Homo sapiens: one gene and its partners. The protein of the gene in region 1 purifies or fractionates together with the protein of each later gene. This does not show direct contact. Each region holds a gene or a part of one and is shown on either strand. Other genes may lie near its edges.

Region 1 (3,834 bases):
GTGAACCAACACTCAGCAAGAAGAACAGGGACTGTTTGCACTGTCCATTTGTGGCTCATTTATAATACTTTCTTTGCTTCCTCAAAGGTGAACAGACATGGGAACAGGTACATGTGGTTTGATAGGAAATGAAAGATTTCCAACAGTTTTAAATGGATGGACTTCAGGGCAAAGGCTGGCTTCTTTTCATAAAGGAGGTAGTTAATAGCTTACATTGTATGAGACTGCCCATATGCCCTTAAAAAAATCATTCTTCATTATAACTCTGAAAAAACAGCTTAACTAGTCTTTGAACAGGCCACCTTCATCAGTAAAACATGCTTCTATATCATTCTCTTCCTCGAACAAAACACTGTGAATAGCTATTGCTGAGCAGACGCCGCCCAGTATCTCTTATGTGACATTAAAAAAATCCACTCAAATACCAACAGATTCAACTTTATAGCACCATTCCAAAATACTAAACTTTCTTTGCACCTTTATTTTTTATCTTTTTTTTTTTTTTGGTACACATGTAAAGTCTGGGCATCCTGTAAATTTCTGAAAAGCCTCATAGAAAAAAAAAAACCGACTAATTTTTAGGACAAAGCAATAACTCAGTTTATAGGCAAGATGATCTCAAGCAGGCTGTAAATTCTTCGTGGGCTTCTGTAAATCTTGATTCGGGGGTGAGAATATGGAAAGGAGGCTAAAGTCTTCCTGGATTAGTCTCTAGAGACTGTGTTGCGCATCAGGATAGAAAAACTTGTTGCCCAACGGTCAGACTCTGCGTATCGGTTACAATGCAAACCATAACAACAGTCTTTTGTTAATTATTTTACTCTTCTGATTGACAAAGGAATTGGAATACTGGATATGTTCGGAGTTTGTATACACCTTTTATTTGTACTCTGTAAGAGAGAAATTAGAATAATATTGAATTCCCTCTTACAAATCTCCATATTTGAAGCTTGGAGCACTGAAATCTGTTCTTAGCAAGCAGATGTATTTAAAGCAGAATTATAAATGGGTCTTTAATTCAACATATATTTGGTTGCATTGTTATGTAAGAAGACTGTTTGACTCAGTAATGTGGGAGTTGACAGATGAGAGACTGTTTGCAGAAAAGATGATTTTTTTCCTCGTGACACTGGAGAGTCACGTCTCACAATGACTGTAACTGCATGTTCTTGTCTAACTCTTCCATATATTACTGTGAGTAATGTGAACCGACACAATGTATGCGAGGGGCTGGGGATTCTGAGTATACTGTGATTGGGAGAGGGAAGAGAAGAGGTAGAGGTCCACTAACAGCATAATTATGCAGCAGTTTCAAAGAAATCGATTATTACACAGTAACAGTCAATGACCCAGGAAGAGAAAGTTTAAATTAGAAGTGACTAGTATTAAAAAGCTACTGTGCACCAGGTAGGAAGGAATATGAGAACCATAATATGCCCTGAAATAGAAATCATCACTTTGCACTATGTACACCACATACAATATAACAGATTCTTTTTTAACATTGCACAGTATAAATATTATACACGGTGGAGTAAACTAAATGCAAAATAACTCTGAGGCACACAGAAGAAACAAGGAATAGATTGAACTTTGATTAAACTAAGATGGAGTTAGTAAAAGGCAGAATGTTACATTTTCAGGCCAGTTAAGCTTCTGAGATCTCACCTCAAGTGGGTCAGCAGCCACCTCCCATAAATACTGAAAATGATCATACCTCAATGTCGTTAGAGTTAATTGCTTCAAAGAAAGACTAATTAGCTAAGTAATTTGAGAAAATCAAACTGTTGCTCCCCACTCTAAAGTAGGTAACCCCTAAAGGTCTCTTCCAAATGTAGGGTTTTATAATGTGAATACACTGCTGCATTCCCCTATTTCTTGTAAATAACTTGATTACTAGGAAACCACTTTAAGGAAACTAGAACAGTATTCAAGAACACCCATCACAGTGCTTAACAAGATTTAATGTACATTTATTCTTAACATGTGGAACATATAAAGATTTTATACTGAATAAATGATATTCATTAAGCCAGAGGAAAAGGAGGAATTTACATCAAGTTTTTTTCTTTTTTTTTTTTTTAAACTACATTATCTTGAAATACAAATGTGGATTCTCATCACTGAAAAATCTTTGAAGTTGTGTTTCTTCCTTTTAGTTGTATTTTTTTCATTTTCTCTTTTTTGACTGTACTGGTAACCATTTTCTAAATCAATCCATATATAACCATTTCCACACCTTGATTCATGAAGCAAATTGTGATCAGCTGCTCTCCTGAAATCGAGCATGACTTTATACATACAGAAACTTGTACATTACCCTCTTTTTTTTTTGTTTTTGTTTTTTGTATTTTTTCTTTCTTTTTTTGGAGATATGGCCCTAATGAAAAAATATATAAAATAAAAATAAAAAATTATTTAAATCTACCATCACTTCGTAGTTACCACATCATGAAAAAGAAACTAAAACTTTGTACTAAAAAAAAAAAAAAAAAAGAAAAGAAAAAAATGAGGGTATGTTTAATGTACAACTTCTATATACATCACAGCCCATAGGCAGTAAAAAAAATATTTAAAAAATGATGAAAGGAATTGTGAAGAACTGTCACGTGGAAGGTCAAACGCCGACAGCAGGCATGACGGGAGTGGTGAGGAGCAGTTTCCGGATCGTTGTCAGGTATGTATTCTCAATCTTAAAAAACATTGTTTTTGCTCCCAGCCTAATGGAACCATATTCCTGTGGAGAAACCAGTATCATTTCATAGTTTTGACTACTGACCGACATACCTCCTTGAGCCCCTATACCTGTATCTGTAGAAATTTCTATTGCACAGAACTTTGGGTGATGGGATGCAGTTTTTTTCATTCTCTGAGGAGTAAAACGCATAGGAAATGGATAATTTTTCACCTTTTTGACTCAGTGTGGTGAAATTTTCGCATCTTAGCATCTTTTGCCACAACTTTTTTCTTTAAAGTCAATTTGCTTCCCCCAAAAATGCAATACAACATGGGAAAGAACATTAAAAAGATCTGTGAAGAACAAAAAGTGACCTTTGAATGCACTAGACAGCAACTTTGGTTAAAAAAAAGAGAAAAAAAAAACCCCAAAGGATGTACTTATACACACAGACAGCAAATATTAATTTCATAACTGTTCAAATTAATTATTTCTTTAATTCCCAATTGGTAAATAGTGAATGGGGCAGAGGAGCAAAGATTTTCTTTTCCTTCTTCCTACGCTGGATAAACAAGAACAGAAAACAGCCAGTTATATGTGACCCTCTAATCTTCACTCACACATGCTTGCCTTCTCACTTATGTCATAACTGCCCAATCTGAAACAGTACATCACAGATGACAGATGCAACCAGAGAGTTCAGGACAGCTGATATCGAGATATCCAGCAACCGGCCCTCGTGCAAAAGGAATTCCGAGCGGTTTTCGTCCACTCTGGCCATGGCTAGCAAAGCCTTGGCCGCCCTGCACATCATGTCTACGCTAGGTGGTTCCAGGGGCGGGGGCTGCATGTGCATGAGGTTGTGCTGGCTCTGCTGGTACTGGGCCATCGTGACCCCATCCTCTAGGAAGCTTATCAAGTTTCCAATGCTTCCTTTCTGCACAGCTATGGCCCTTGCTGCTAGTGCGTCCCCTTGGGCAAGGTTCGATAAAAGCGCCATGGACATTTCTCGACAGACTGGGTTTTTGCGATCCCCAACGTACCTAACTAATGTAGCATAGAATTTCTCCTGACGACTAAATGGAGGAGTGGCCAAGATCAGGTCCACATTATTGTCCTGGATACTGAGTTTACAGAGGGTCTCCAGCACAAGTCTC
Region 2 (3,500 bases), on another chromosome or scaffold:
TTAAAATGTAAATGTTAACACTTTTCCTTCCTGCTGAGATGTTTAGAGCCTAGTGCCAGACCCATTCATTTCCTTTTGATTATTTTTGAGACTCAGTACTGCATGGACCTCAGAAGCTTTTCAGGTGCAAACTTCTAGAAGCTTAGGTGCATGCAGTAATAGCTTCTTGTGCTGTTAATGGGTTATTATATATTATTCTAAGTGTAATGCTGAGAATCTAAATGTGTCTCTGTTGGGATGGTTAACAGATGAATTGGCAATTTTTATTATGTTCCTGGAAGATTACATTATTCATTTGAGTACCTTCTGTTATTAAGCCTAGGTAGCCTTACTGTGCAACTTTTTATTTATCCTTGGAAATTTTGAATGTTGTGTTCTTACAGAGAGCTTTTCTGTAGAGATGACTGCTATTCAATATTTTGTGTTGCAACCTCTTAAAATAATAGCTCTTGTTGACCTTTTTGGGATCTGTTTTTCTGATCTTTTGCAGGGTAGTTTTATGATTTTTTAGGCATCAAATAACCTATGCAAAGTATTAATATAATGAACTCAAGTTGAGTTTTTCTCATTATAAAGTTAAGACTTCTAAGAAAATGGTAACATTTCTTTATAACTTTCCTGTGAAGGTATAGATAAAACACATGAAGTCTGAAGTTGTATGGAAAAAAGGGCTTTAACTTTGAAGGAAAATATATTGAAAAGTGATTTAGCCATCACAAAAGAGTTCGTATTTATGTGACAGATGAAAGTCATACCTTTAAGCAAAACATTGCAAGTATTATAAAGCTGAATGCTATTTTAACTCACATTGGCTGGGTGCAGTGGCTCACGCCTGTAATCCCAGCCCTCTGGAAGGCTGAGATGGGAGGATTGCTTGAGTCCAGGAGTTTGAGACCAGCCTGGCCAACATGGCAAAACCCCATCTGTACAAAACATTTAAAAATTAGCCAGGCGCGTTAGTGTGTGTCTGTGGTCCCAGCTGCTCAAGAGGCTGAGGAAGGAGGTTCTTCCTCCTTCCGAGGCTGCGGTGAGCTATGTTCACTCCAGCCTGGGCAACAGAGCGAGACTCTGTCAAAAAATAAATTAAAATATCTGATTATCTGGCTTCAATGATTTTGGCTCCTGTGCTTGTGGTACCATAGTGGTACAAAAATTTTCATAGTTTGAAAATAAAACAGGTATTTTGCCAGTAATGTATTTCTTTCTGCCAGCAGCCAAGTCCCAAACCACTTTCCCCTCTGAACCTCTGCTTACCTAAATGGTTTCAAAATTAATACATGCTGCTTTGATTTGGCAGCACACTTAATATACTGCTGAAGGAAAACTTGTGTTGAAAGTCTTTAAGATAAAAATGGTGTGATAGGCCGGGCGCAGTGGCTCACGCCTGTAATCCCAGCACTTTGGGAGGCCCAGGCGGGTGGATCATGAGGTCAGGAGATGGAGACCATCCTGGCTAACACGGTGAAACCCCGTTTCTACTAAAAATACAAAAAATTAGCTGGGCGTAGTTGCGGATGCCTGTAGTCCCAACTACTCTGGAGACCGAGGCAGGAGAATGGCGTGAACCCGGGAGGCATAGCTTGCAGTGAGCGGAGATCACACCACTGCACTCTAGCCTGGACGACAGATTGAGACTCCGTCTCAAAAAAAAAAAATGCTGTGATTAAATTTAGAATAATTAAGTAAGGGGTGCTCTCCCAAATTCTCAGGAATTTCATGTATACGGTTATTGACAAACTGCAATAGGGTTAGTAGACCTGTTTCAGAAATTATGTGAAGCTTTATTTGCATTTTATGCAAAGAAGGTTGATACTTTGTAGCAAGGTTTTTTGCTCTCTGTATAGGTCTGATGGGCAAAAATGGAACTTTTAAATATGGGATAGAATTCTAATTAAAAATTAATTGAAAGTGTTAGGCATTGGCAGATAAAACTTAAGCTCATGAGTTCCTGAGTTTGTAGCTATAGGCTCAGAGGTGGTGTACCCATTTAATATATTTGAAGTGTAATTTTTGCATGCATCCAAACGTAATTAAGCTTCTAGAAAATACCTTTTTTCTAAATGCTTCTGGGGTCCATAGTGTGGTTGAATTATGAGTGGAGCAAATTATATTCATATAATTAACTCTGACTCAACCTTCCTTAAGTAGTAGATGAAGTTGAGTCAAAGTGGATGCCAACTGCCCTCACAGAAGACAACTTTTGGGACTTGATAATTCAGGCAGGCATTGTGATTGTCATAATTAAGGAAGCTGTAAGGTTAGTAGGGCTGGCAACTTTGGCTCTACCTTACATCCACCCCTTTTAGAAAAACAAGAAAACATTTTGTCTGGCACTAGTTTCTGTTGTATAAGTTTTCATACTGTTTAACAAGACCACAGCAGGTAAGGATTAATTTTTGAGTGGCTGCTGGAATTACTTGATTTGAATACTTAGTATTTTAGTAGTGTCTCACACATTTGCCATTAGGTATGAATAAAATATTCCTACTGTACTCCTATTCCACTAAGTTACATTTTGAACTTAGACTCACCTTAATTAAACTTAATTAATTGGGGAGGGGGATTCCCCAACAAAAAGAAGTACGGGCTCAGAGTGGAATTGTAGTGGACAATAGTTAAAAACAAAGCTGCTCCTTTTGCTTGCTTGATCATTGGGATTTTTAAAAAAAAAAATTTTAATGCATGTCTTTTAAATTAATTGGGAACTGTTTTTCTAAAATTAAAATTTTCTTCTTCCTATAGCCCTGCCATAGGACAGGCTGAGGCTGAGTCTCAGTGTTGCCCTGTTCAGTCTGAGGCAAGTGGGATTTATTTTATTCCTTATAGGGGCTTTCACAGCTTTATGGCTGTTGGATATTTATGTCCCCAAACTTGCAGCAAGTTTGGTGAAGGCCCCTAAATTTAATTAAACTTAGGATTTTTATACTCTTTTGGCAGAGAAGGCTCTATATTAATATTCACGTTTGACTGTGGTGTTAATAAACATAAGTATTTCATATGCAATTTTATGTAATTTGCTGTGTGTTACATAATTAACAGCTTCAGTAAAGCTTGTGTTCCTATATTGAACTTCAATAAATTGACAAAATTTGATATTTTTGATTGGAGGCAAGAAATGTTTCATTCAAGTTTTTTACTTTCACTTCTAGGAAAATCTTACTGGTTTTATTTTCTCCATAAACTATTAAATTTAACCTCAAGGATAAGTTTAATCATTGGAAATGCCACTGGATACTGAAATGTGCCTTCTCTTTTTTGAGACGGAGTTTCACTCTTATCACCCAGGATGGAGTGCAGTGGTGCGATCTCGGTTCACTGCAACCTCTGCCTCCCGGATTCAAGTGATTCTCCTGCCTCAGCCTCCCGAGTAGCTGGGATTATAGGCTCCCGCCACCACATCTGGCTATTTTTTCAATATTTTTCAGTAGGGATGGGGTTTTGCCGTGTTGGCCAGGCTGGTCTCAAACTCCTGACCTCAGGTGATCCACCCATCTCAGCCT
Region 3 (3,734 bases), on another chromosome or scaffold:
AACTCAATGATGTGTGTTAGGGGACTTCAAATTGTTCTATGTGGCTCAAATAGAGGGTGGGGTTAGAGTTGTTACATGAGATAAAGTTGGTTGGGTGGGCTAGGGCTTTGCAGGATAGATTTGGATTTTGTCTTGTCAGCAGTGGGATTTCTTTGAAGAATAAAATCAATCAACTTTACATCTTAGCTCATTCTGGCAGCATTGTGCAGGATAGATTAGAAGGGTACATGCATGGAGGAGAGACACTAGGAGATGAAACAGCTCAAGAAGCAAAGTTTGAGGGCTTTGAGCATGGCAGCAGCAATGGAGATAGAGAACGGATGATAGATTTTCAGAAAATCAGTTTGCTAACTGGATGTGGAAGGCTAAATAAAAGGAGGAGTTGAAGACAACACCTAGACTGATTTGATTGGGTAGATTAAATAACATAGAAGAATGGGTGGTGGTCTTGGGAAAAAGATATGATAATGGGTTGTAGTTATATTGTGAAATTTACTTTGGGATTTAAGTTTATAGAATTTAAATACCCTCAAAACAATTCCTAAAATCATGAGAGTGATCGTTCAGTAATAAATACTAAAGGCAAAGATAGGCAGGCTTTTGTCATGTCTAAAAGTAAGCTGAGATTTTAATTTAGGGAAGCATGGTTATAGTTACATAGAAACTTAACTAAAGTCAGGTTCGTAACATATTAAGAGTTTTAAAATTACATTCTTCTAAGTTAGTCATAATTGTTTATTTCTTTAAGTAAATTACTTTCAAAATACTATACTACTGACAAAAGTTTAAGATAAATATGTTCTATAAGTAATGAAATACTTAAATCAAGTGAAAAACCACTTGTGTGTTTTGGCCTGCATTTAAAGATCTAGGTCTTAAAGAGAGCCATGCATCTAATTAATAAGACTGTGTTATTCGTTTATATGTTATTGTTGTTGTAAACAATGTTAGACCTAGGCATTTGTAAAATTAGTTATGATTTGGCCATACTTATTTATAATTGGAGTCCATAACAATTTAAAGTGAAGGTTTAAAGAAAGTCTTCCTGTCATCCCTCTTCCATGTTCTCATTACTATACCTGAAAACATACTTACTTGCTCCCCTCTAGCTTGCTCCTGTCTGTGGTATTATAGGTTCTACCTTCTCTAGTCTTTACTGTGTCTCCCCTCTCTCTGCCCTTTACTTAGCCACCAAAGTGATCCTTTTGAAATACAGATCTGATCATGCTTTTTGGCTGTCTATATAACCTTTTTTATTTCTCAATTTTAATTGAAGCCTTTACATTAATATATCCTGCCATGGCTTCATGATCAAGCAAAAGAGGAAATAATGCTTAGCACAACAAAAGGTGCCCCAGACCCTGCACTAACCGTATGGCTGATTGGTCGGTGTTTATACCACATTGGTTGTTAACAAAGCACATGCCATATTATTAGTTGTTAATATTTTTAATATAATCTCTACTTCAGGTACAACTCTTAATACATTATATTGACATTATCTAATTTTAGTATATTGAAATGATATATATCATTGTGTATATTGAAATAATCCAAAGATGTCCTCTATAAACCAAAGTTTCTCGAATTTAGGGTATGTTTCTTAGTCATTTTTCTATCACCTGCACTTATCACGTAATAGGCATTTATATGTTGATTCAATTAATCATCAAATTGGCAAGGGGGTGAACAAATCCTAGATGGCATAGTGCTGATTACATTGTCAATAGCACACTTTATAAAATTCTATTCATGACTGTTCGTCAGAGTGGTATCCCCACTTTACAAATGACTCAAAGACTCATTATTTTGACTACGGTCCACAAATCATACGTGGTAGAGCTAGGGATGAACCCAGATTTGTCTGACTACAAAGCCCAGGAGTTTTTGCACTGTCTGTAACCACTGCTTTAAAATATAGATAATTAATAAATCCTGTTAAATGACACGATTAACATTGAAATAACAGAAAATTCACTGATCAAACTGTCCAGCTAGTAAATTTGGAAGTGAGTTTAATATTTTAAAAAACCACAATAGCAGCTGGGTGCAGTGCCTCACGCCTGTAATCCCAGCACTTTGGGAGGCCAAGGCAGGCGGATCACCTGAAGTCAGGAGTTTGAGACTAGCCTGGCCAACATGGTGAAACCCTGTCTCTACTAAAAAAAAAAAAAAATACAAAAATTAGCTGGGCATGTTGGCGAGCACCTGTAGTCCCAGCTACTCGGGAGGCTGAGGCAGGAGAATTGCTTGAACCGGGGAGGCAGAGGTTGCTGTGAGCCGAGATCACACCACTACTCTCCAGCCTGGGTGACACAGTGAGACTCTGTCTCAAAAAAAAAAAAAAAAAAAAACAAACCCACAATAGCTAGAATATATTTAAAATGTAATTATATTGTTAGGCAACATATTTAAGAAAAAGTAAAAGATAATATTATCTAGTTGATACTAATGCTTGACCCACCTAAAAGTCAGTATCACTTTTACAATAATTTATTCTTCAAAGCTATCATGTCACCTTAGTATCACAGATGTATGTGAGTAATTCTACTAGCATTAATGGAAATTGTGCATATAAATCTCGATGAGTTAAGTGAACATTTACCCTTAAGGATTATTTCATATCAGAGTAGTATCATATGGAGTCCGCATGCATTGTATAAAGATAAGTGAATCTTTTGTATAAAGAATAGATAATTTCAACTTCTGCCAAGAACACAACATGCACATTCAATATATAAATGTTTATATATGTATTTCTAATTGTTGTTAATATAGGATGAGTTCCATTTGGGACCAGAAATGAATGTTTTGATGATACGTTATTTCTATCTTTATAGATATTAGAAATTGTCTCTTAAAGCGCTAGTTATACTAGGAAGCATCTCTGATAGTTTAAAATAAAAGAAAAAAATCCCCAAGCGTATCTCTTACTTGTGATCCAGGAGCTCAAAAAGATTGCTAGGTTGATCTCTATCTAACCTGCAGTTCAGTTTGTTTCTTTGTTGTTGTTTTTTAATGCCTCAGGTATAGCATAGATATCTAATTCTTAGCCTCTGGTTAAGACTTCTATTACTTGGTCTTTTATGTAACACAGTTTCCTATTATAATCAGCAAAAATGTAGTAAGTAGTATTACAGATTGAGATTCTTATAAAAAATGGATAGAAAAAAACTACCAGTGATAGTTTTAGAAACAGCTAGTTTGCTCTTTGCACCTATTTTAAAAGAAGGAAAGGAAGGGCCTACACTTTAAAAACAAACAAAATCCCCAAACCTTAAAGGCTTTTTTAAAAAAGAAAACTTTTTATTTGGAGATAATTTTGACTTACTTAAGACTGAAATTCTTTATAAAAATTTTGTATAAATGGTATGACACCTTTTTCTGAATTGGGCTGCTAACACTGAGGCCAGATGCATGACTCTTAAATGTAGCAATCATAGGAGTTGAGTCGTTACTACTTTCTGAAAAGTGAGAAAACAGTAAAAGGTTTTCACTCAATTAAGCTTAATCTGCAGGCAAAGATGTTAATTTAACAGACTTTGAGACTCCATTTATGTTATTTTGGCAATTTTAACTCTCCGGGTGTGATTAAGGAAGCAATTGCTAGTTTTATGCCAAGAATTCTGGATGAATTAACAATTAATTAAGAAACAACCTTAAACTTGGCATTAACTCCATATTTGGATAGTTCTGAATAGTTTCTATATAATTAAAAAAAAAAGTAAAACCAG

The links.
Region 2: the proteins of ARID1B (region 1) and ZNF207 purify together in Homo sapiens (affinity purification with mass spectrometry; one large-scale study listed by BioGRID and IntAct). This does not show direct contact.
Region 3: the proteins of ARID1B (region 1) and AGPS purify together in Homo sapiens (affinity purification with mass spectrometry, with the first as the bait; one large-scale study listed by BioGRID). This does not show direct contact.

The regions. Positions count from the first base shown.
Region 1 is NC_000006.12:157,207,378-157,211,211, reverse strand, and holds the end of ARID1B (AT-rich interactive domain-containing protein 1B), read right to left. Parts: coding exon 3,321-3,834; 3' UTR 433-3,320; downstream 1-432. UniProt on the Homo sapiens protein: Involved in transcriptional activation and repression of select genes by chromatin remodeling (alteration of DNA-nucleosome topology).
Region 2 is NC_000017.11:32,370,657-32,374,156, forward strand, and holds part of ZNF207 (BUB3-interacting and GLEBS motif-containing protein ZNF207), read left to right. Parts: 3' UTR 1-3,500. UniProt on the Homo sapiens protein: Kinetochore- and microtubule-binding protein that plays a key role in spindle assembly. ZNF207/BuGZ is mainly composed of disordered low-complexity regions and undergoes phase transition or coacervation to form temperature-dependent liquid droplets.
Region 3 is NC_000002.12:177,493,585-177,497,318, forward strand, and holds part of AGPS (alkyldihydroxyacetonephosphate synthase, peroxisomal precursor), read left to right. Parts: intron 1-3,734. UniProt on the Homo sapiens protein: Catalyzes the exchange of the acyl chain in acyl-dihydroxyacetonephosphate (acyl-DHAP) for a long chain fatty alcohol, yielding the first ether linked intermediate, i.e. alkyl-dihydroxyacetonephosphate (alkyl-DHAP), in the pathway of ether lipid biosynthesis.